Linked DNA regions of Homo sapiens: all the other regions are linked to region 1. Evidence: fine-mapped expression QTL. A gene starts in region 1. Each other region holds a variant in brackets. All regions are shown on one strand. Distances are from middle to middle. Region 1 holds the start of CNNM4 (cyclin and CBS domain divalent metal cation transport mediator 4). Region 2 overlaps LMAN2L (lectin, mannose binding 2 like). Region 3 overlaps LMAN2L (lectin, mannose binding 2 like).

Evidence for each region. PIP is the estimated chance that this variant, and not a neighbour inherited with it, causes the effect.
Region 2: its variant is the best candidate, but not a certain one, in a credible set for the expression of CNNM4 in whole blood (TOPMed, PIP 0.59).
Region 3: its variant is the best candidate, but not a certain one, in a credible set for the expression of CNNM4 in whole blood (TOPMed, PIP 0.67).

Annotation. Positions count from the first base shown.
Region 1 is chr2:96,759,346-96,762,106 of GRCh38, reverse strand. CNNM4 (cyclin and CBS domain divalent metal cation transport mediator 4) reads right to left here and starts at 1,205. Exons shown (of 7, transcript NM_020184.4): 1 at 1-1,205. The coding sequence starts at 1,107. RefSeq lists enhancers at 1-568, 448-697, 569-1,158, 1,718-1,767 and silencers at 661-844, 968-1,387.
Region 2 is chr2:96,735,238-96,737,998 of GRCh38, reverse strand. LMAN2L (lectin, mannose binding 2 like) reads left to right here. Exons shown (of 8, transcript NM_030805.4): 2 at 1-50. Among named protein-coding and RNA genes, the nearest start is that of LMAN2L, 3.4 kb to the left of the region's middle. The variant C/G (reference allele first, on the strand shown) is at 1,526.
Region 3 is chr2:96,719,747-96,722,507 of GRCh38, reverse strand. All of the region lies in intron 4 of LMAN2L (lectin, mannose binding 2 like), which reads left to right. Among named protein-coding and RNA genes, the nearest start is that of LMAN2L, 19 kb to the left of the region's middle. The variant G/T (reference allele first, on the strand shown) is at 1,419.

The DNA of each region.
Region 1 (2,761 bases):
CCGTAGTTCCAGGGCACCCTGGATCATATTGAGCTCCTCTTTCACGAGGTCATTATAGGGCTCCGTCACCTTCAACATCTCCATCAGCTTCTCCCGGTTGTAAACAGTGCGAATCTCCTGGCCCAGAAAAAAGTCCAGGAGCTTGCTAATGGGAAAACTGAGGGGGAAGGTGAGTAGCATAAAGAATTTGGTGAGAAGGATGGTGTTGGCACCCACAGCCAGCCCATGTCGGGAGCACAGGGCCTGAGGTAGGATCTCCCCAAAGATGACAATGCCAATGGTGGAGGAGGCCACCGCCATGAGGCCGGACCCGATGAGGTTGTCTAGAAGGATTGTGAGGGAGGTGTTGACCAGCACGTTCCCTAGGAGCAACGAGCAGAGAAGGTAGTTGCCCTTGCGCCGGATGGGCTCAATCTTGCGGGCATAGCGCCTCTCCTTCTCGGTGCCACAGTTCTGCACGATGCGCAGCTCCATGGGGTCCAGGGCCATAAGCCCGAGGTTGAGGCCAGAAAATATGCCCGACAGCACCAGCAGCACCGTAATTAGGAGAATGTGCAGCCAGAGAGGCAGGAACCTCCCAGGCTCCTCCACCATGAAGAGCAGTGAGTCCTTGTCCGTCCACTTCAGCCAGGGCCCGTCGGGCTGGGCCCGGGTGCACAGTGCATACAGCTTCATGCTCTCGCTCCTCCGGAGGAACTTGGTGAGCACCACCAGCACGCCGGACGTGTTCCCGCGGCTCACGTTGACCAGCTGCTGGACGACCAGGTCCTTGGTGAGCTCGAGGCAGCTGGTGGACTTGTGGAGGGTCTCGGCATCGTCCACCTCGGTGAAGGAGATCAGGTTGCTGGAGATGTTGCCCAGGCTGTAGCCGTACAGCCTCAGGTTCACGGTGCTGCCCTCGGACACGAAGATGATGCCATCCGGGTTCGTCCCACACGACTTGTTGCAGCTCGCCAGCCTCATGCCCACGATCGTGCCCTGCTGGGGGCTGCCCTGGCCCCGGGCCCCCAGCGCCCACAGCAGCACCAGCAGCACCGGCGCCGCCAGGAGGAGGCGCCCGCGGGCCGGTCCGCCGACCGGGCGCCCGCCCCCGCCCACCGGCGCCATGTTGCTCTGGCTCTGCCGCCGCCGCCGCTCCCCGCGCCACGCCGCGCGGCCCCGGTCCGCACCGCAGCTCCGGCCGCTCCGCTGCCGCCGAGCCAACTGCCCGGGCCGCGAGCCTGACGTCAGGTCAGCGCCCCGCCCGCCCCGCCCCGCCTGCCCACGCCCCTCATTTGCATTGGAGGCCCCGCCCCCGGGGCTCGCTGCTTGAGCGCCCGCCCTTAAGGGGGTACAGTCGCTTAAGGTGGAGCAGCGCCGCCGCGCGAGAGCCGCCAGCGGGTACCCGCCCAGTGCTCCGCCTCCGCGCCCTTCCCCGCCTTTCTCTGCCAGTGGGGCCAGCTCTCCTTCTCCGGGACCTGGTCTCCTAGCTACGCCGTTCCTGTTCCTCGGCCTCGCACGGCCGCACGTGGGAGGCTCCTCTCCCGTCCCTCACCTGCAGCTAGGGGTGGCCCGCTCTGCAGGCAGGGCGAGAAAAGTGCTTTTCCTGATGTAGAAAAAGAAAAAGGAAACCTGAGGGCTTAGGCTGGCATTGCAGCCTGCCCCTTGGAGACTTTTCTGGCCTCCTCACTGCTGAGATTTTTGCCGACCTTGTCCTAAGGCCAGAAGTAGGTTACCCCAGCCCCAGCCCCAGCCCGACGATGCTTCCATCAACCAGTGGCTGCCTGATGTGGAAGGCAAATCTGGGGAACTAAGGTTATAGAAGGGGCAGGCTCTGGCCTAGACTTCTCTCCTGTCTCTTCCATTTAGGCATAGATATTTATTGAACACCTACTTTGTACCAGGCACTTGTTCTAGGCTCTGACAATAGAGCAGTGAACAAGCCAAAGTCGCTGCCCATTGGGGTTTACAGTCTAGAACAGAAAACAGGAGATAAACAAGTAAACACATATATTCATTAAATCCCCCCAACAACCCTCAGAGTTAGTAGAATTATTTCCATTTAGAGATGCAGAAATTGAGCCGAGACAAAAATCCTGGTGCCTCCATACTGTCATCTCCCAGCCCATTTCTCCATCTGTAAATGGGGGTAAGAATGACAGAGCATTACTTCGCTAAGCTTGCGGGATTGTGGACCTAGACATTGAACATGACAGGACAGCTCTTTAGAATATTCTTTGGCTAGGTAGTAGTTGTTGCTACCTGCCTTCCAGGACCAAACTCCTAACCCCAAATTGTGGTGATTGATCAGCTGGGCAGCTGCTTGTGGACATGAGCAGGCAGGCGCGGCAGTGGGCCTATCCCTGAAATGACTGCTTCCTGAATGGCCCTAGCCCTGTGTCAGTAGGGTGTATAAGGAAGACCACAGCTGCCCGCCCTGTGAGGGGGAAGAAGACAGACAGATAAACATCCTTACAATAATTGCACAGGTGCACAGAGAAGATCAGGTACTGGGTTGACCACCAGGTCTCACAGCAAATCTTTTGCCAGTACTGAAGACACAGAACCCACTTTACTCCCTTCCCGCACTGACACTTGTATTTATTTTCATTTTGGTGTAATGTTTGCTAATAAAAGCAGCAATCAGTACCAAACGGAAGGAGCCTAAACAGAAAGGATCACACAATGTTGTGGGAGGAGGTGTGGTAGCAGAGAGGCCCTGACTCAAGAAAGCCCTGTTAGCTGGGATTGAGGGTTCTGTAAACTAGGCCAGCCTGGAGAA
Region 2 (2,761 bases), 24 kb after region 1:
GCCTTACCCCAGATATGCAAAGTAAACAGGGTGCCTTGTGGAACCGGGTGGTAAGAATCTTTCTCCCTCCTGTGTTGGTGACCCAGAAAGGCCTAAAAAGTTCAGCAGTGGCATACTGATTTAATTTTACTGTCTATCCCCCTGGTATTCTATCTTCTGTGGATATCAAGGATCTTTATTTTTGAGATTATTCTGACCTTGATAATAAATAAATCAGGTATTTAGGAAAATGCTCTCTATTTAATTATAGCAAATAATTCATTTTTTTTTCCTGAAATGTCGTTAATTCCTGATTGGCCCAATAGTACTACTTCTTAGGGTTTAATAATAACTTAACTCCTGCTTAACCACTTTGTAAGAAGATTATAAGAAGACCAGAGTGCAGTGGCACAATCATAGCTCACTGCAGCCTCAAACTCCTGGGCTTAAGGGCTCCTCCTGCCTCAGCCTCCTGAGTAGCTGAGACTACAGGCATGTGCCACTGCACCTGGCTAATTTTTAAAACGTTTTTTGTAGAGATGGGGTCTTGCTATGTTGCCCAGGCTGGTCTCAAACTCTTGGTCTCAAACAATCCTCCTGCCTTGGCCTCCCAAAGGTCAGGGATTATAGGTGTGAGCCACCGGTCCTGGTTGAGAGTACTCTTAAATTGATCCCAAACCTTATCCCAGCATCCCCATCTTGTTATTTCAATTTGAAGAGTCTGATATAAAATTTTATTTTCATGTGAAAGCCACTCTGAGCTGTTGGTCATTTTATTTGTCCTTCTCTGGACCTTTTCTAGCTGCATTGTCTTCCTTGAGGTATGGCGACAAGAAGTGAATGCAGTATTCCTGGTGTGGCTGCACTGTGATTTTGTACAAGTGTAAGATGATGCTTTCTTTTCTGTTTCCAGGGCTTTCTAAATCTTTTACGACCAGTTTACTTTTGGGCATGACTCTGGCATCCTTTGATACTTTCTCTGGAATTCTCTTAAACTAAGAACTTACTTTTTTACGTGGCTTTTCTCATTAGTTGTAGATAAGCGAATCTCAGAAAAGAGAACGATTTCTTTTCCCTGTTCAGGAGGGCAAGAGAAATTTCTACATTAGCTATCTGCACAAACTGGCCCCTTAACCTAGATCATAGTGCCGAGCTCATTTTTGGACAGAGTACAGAGCATTGTGTTTTCGTAGCAGAGATAAAGGACAGTTGAAAGACTGGGATTCTCGGTCCAGCTCTGTCACAGTCCTCCTGTGAGCCCTAGGCAGATTATTTAACTTCTTAGTTCTGTTTCTCTATCTGATAAATGAGCTTCAGAATACCTGTTTTACTTGCCCACTGGGGTTGTCGTGAGAATAAAATAGGACAATAGACATGAAAAGACTGTGGCAAGTTAAAATGGTTATAGAAATATGTGTTATGTTATTACACTTCTACAGGTTTGTTGATGGGGCTCTTGTGGGTTACCGGATGATTATGTTCAAGGCTTGATACTCTGCTGCTGTCTTGCTGGCTGTCTGTCTCTACATAACTTGTAGCAGCAGTT[C/G]TAGTATAGCCTCTAGTTCTTCCCTTTTTCGACTTCTGATACCTGTATTCGCTGTTATCTGGCTATCACCATGACTATGGGCTTGTTTCTGAGTTATTTGAATAGGATGCATTTGTTTCAGCAGTGGTTCTCAAATTTGGCTATCCATTGGAATCAATGCCTGGGTCTCATCCCCAGAGATTCTGATCTAATTGGAATAGGGTGCAGCTTGGCCATTGGGATTTTTTAAAACTCCGTAGGTGAATCCAGTGTGTGGCAGAATTTCAGAACCACAATTAGACATGGTCCTGAGCAAAACAGTATAGCATTGTGCTGTAGGAGGCCAGGAATCAGTGACAGACACCTCTTGGCTCACTGGGAACTTCTGTGACTCTGCCCTCTTCCCAGGGGCATAATACCTACCTCCTGGCAGCTTCCTGCCCCACTGAATTTCACTCTTTCTCTGAAAGCTATTTTTTTGAAACAGGGTCTCATCACTCTGTCGCCTAGGCTGGAGTGCAGTGGCACTATCACAGCTCACTGCAGCCTGGACCTCCTGGGCTCAAATGATCCTCCACCAAAGCCTCTCAAAATGCTTTGATTACTGGCGTGAACTACTGTGCCTGGCCTTTCTCTGAAATCTTTTTTTTTTTTTTTGAGATGGAGTCTCGCTCTGTCGCCCAGGCTGGAGTGTAGTGGCATGATCTCAGCTCACTGCAAGCTCTGCCTCCTGGGTTCACGCCATTCTCCTGCCTCAGCCTCCTGAGTAGCTAGGACTCCAGGCGCCCACCACCACACCGGCTAATTTTTTGTATTTTTTAGTAGAGACGGGGTTTCACCGTGTTAGCCAGGATGGTCTCGATCTCCTGACCTTGTGATCTGCCCACCTCAGCCTCCCAAAGTGCTGGGATTACAGGCGTGAGCCACCGCGCTGGGCCGTTTCTCTGAAATCGTAATGAAACAGCAGAGAGATAAGAATCCAGAGTGACAAGACAGAGACTGGCTCAATAGAGTAGGAGATTTCAGGCCCCTTGCTCAATGCAGGAGTACCCAATCCCCTTTCATTTTGACTGTGTACTTCTAATATGAACACTGTTGGAAAATATCCCAGAAATAAAGAATGAAAACTGAAAATGATCTAGCAATAGTTGCCCAGAACAGTCTATTTGGAGAGCCTTTGGCTGAACCCAGCTGGTCTGTCTGTTCTTCCTTCACTTCTTTCTTCACAGTAGACTTTTAACCAGAAGCTTCCCTAAA
Region 3 (2,761 bases), 40 kb after region 1:
GGCATTAGATTCTCATAGGAGCAGGAGCCCTCTTATGAACTGAGCATGCGAGGGATCTAGTTTTCTCCTTAGGAGAATTTAATGCCTGATGATCTGTCACTGTCTCCCATCACCCCCAGATGGGACTATCTAGTTGCAGGAAAACAAGCTTAGGGTTCCCGCTGATTTCTACATCATGGTGAGCTGTATAATTATTTCATTATATATTATAACGTGATAATAATAGAAATAAAGTACACAGGCCGGGTGCGGTGGCTCACGCCTGTAATCCCAACACTTTGGGAGGCCAAGGTGGGCGGATCACGAGGTCAGGAGATTGAGGCCATTCTGGCTAACACGATGAAACCCCGTCTCTACTAAAAATACAAAAAAATTAGCCGGGCGTGGTGGCGGCCACCTATGGTCCCAGCTACTCGGGAGGCTGAGGCAGGAGAATGGCGTGAACCTGGCAGGCGGAGCTTGCAGTGAGCCAAGATCGCGCCACTGGATTCCAGCCTGGGCAACAGAGTGAGACTCCGTCTCAAAAAAAAAAGAAAGAAAGTACACAATAAATGTAATGTGCTTGAATCATCCCGAAACCACCCCCCCTCCAACTCCCCGGTTCATGGAAAAATTGTCTTCCAGGAAACCAGTCCCTGGTGCCAAAAAGGTTGAGGACTACTGGATTAGAGGATAAACAAAATGTGATATATTGTTATAATGGAAATATCAGCAATGAAAATAAGTATCACTGGGTGTGGTGGCTCGTGCCTATAATCCCAACACTTTGGGAGGCCAAGGTGGAAGGATTGCTTGAGTCTAGGAGTTTTAGATCAGCTTGGGCAACATAGGGAGACCCCATCTTTACAAAAAACAAAAAAAATTAGCTGGTCCCAGCTACTTTGCAGGCTGAGGCAGGAGGATTGCTTGAGTCCAGGAGGTCAAGGCTGTAGTGAGCTATGATTGCCACTGCACTGTAGCCTGGGCGATGGAGCAAGACTGTCTCAAAAAAAAAACAAAGTAGGAGTAATTGCCAGGCACAGTGGCTTACACTTGTAATTCTAGCACTTTAGGAGACCAAGGTGAGTGGATCACTTGAGCCCAGGACCTCGAGGTTGCAATGAGCCTTGATCACACCACTGCACTCCAGCCTGGGTGACATAGCAAGACCCTGTCTCAAAAAAAAAAAAAAAAAAAAAAAAGACTGAAAGAAATTAAGTATCGATATGTGCTCCAACATGGATGACCCATGAAAACACTATGCTAAGTGGAAGAAGCCAGTCACAAAAGACCCACACATTGTATGATCCCATGCATATGAAATGTCCAGAATAGGCAAATCTGTAGAGACAGAAAGTAGATTAGTGGTTGTCTAGGGCTGGGGTAATGTGGGGTGGAGATGAGGAGAGTGACTACTAGTGGGCATGAGATTTTTTTTT[G/T]GGGTGATGAAAATGTTTTAAAATTGGTTGTGGTAATCATAATCTTAACTCTGAATATACTAAATGCCATTGAATTATATACTTTAAGTGAATTGTGTGGACTGTGAATTATATCTCAGTGTTGTAGTTATTTATTTTATTTATTTTTTTTGAGACTGAGTCTCACCCTGTCGCCCAGGTTGGAGTGCAGTGGCGTGATCTTGGCTCACTGCAACGTCCATCTCCCAGGTTCAAGTGATTCTCCTGCCTCAGCATTCCGAGTAGCTGGGATTACAGGTGCCTGCCACCACGCCTGGCTAATTTTTGTATTTTTAGTAGAGACGAGGTTTCACCATGTTGCCCAGGCTGGTCTCGAACTCCTGACCTTGTGATTTGCCCGCCTCAGCCTCCCAAAGCACTGGGATTACAGGCGTGAGTCACCGCGCCTGGCTGTATTGTAGTTATTTTTTAATGTTGATTAAAAGATCACCAGTGGGCAGGCACAGTAGCTCGTGCCTATAATCCCAGCACTTTGGGAAGCCAAGGCAGGAAGATAGCTTGAGTCCAGGAGTTTGAAACCAGCCTAGGCAACATAGCAAGTCCTCATCTCTACAAAAAATCAAAAAAAAAAAAAAGGTAAAGATAACCTGATTATCTTGCACTATCAAGTCATCAGCTGATGATCATCACTTTCTCACACAAACCTACCCAGATGTTGGTGAAAAGTTGCAGGGAAGTCAGTAGCAATCTTGGAGCTACAATGTGCTTCCGTTGAAATCAGAGCGTAATGAATGAGAAGAGGCCTTCCTGGAATGAGAGCACAGAGTGTAACCGTTGCGGTCTTGGCCTTCATTCTTTTCTGTGAGATGTTTGGGCCTCACCCCTGGGGAGGCAGAAATAGCTAGAGAGTGGGGAGAAGAGCTTGGGAGTTGTTTTTGAGGTATTCCCCATACTTTGAGATACTCCTCATACTTTTTTTTGATGTGATGATTGTTTTTTCCTCCTTTGAACTGGAAGAAAATTTAACAATACCATGCCATCCAGTTAAAAAAACATTTCCTCAAGTCTTTTTTTTTTCTTTTGAGACTGAGTCTTGCATTCTATCGCCCAGGATGGAGTGCAGTGGCACAGTGATAGCTCACTGCAGCCTCGAACTCCTAGGCTTAAGCAGTCTTCCTGCCTCAGCCTTCTGAATAACTGGGACTACAGGTGGCCATCATGCCAGGTTAATTTTTACTTTTTTTGGCCAGGTGCAGTGGCCAATGCCTATAATCCCAGCACTTGAGGTCAGGAGTTCGAGACCAGCCTGGCCAACATGGTGAAACCCTGTCTCTAATAAGAATACAACAATTAGCTGGGATATG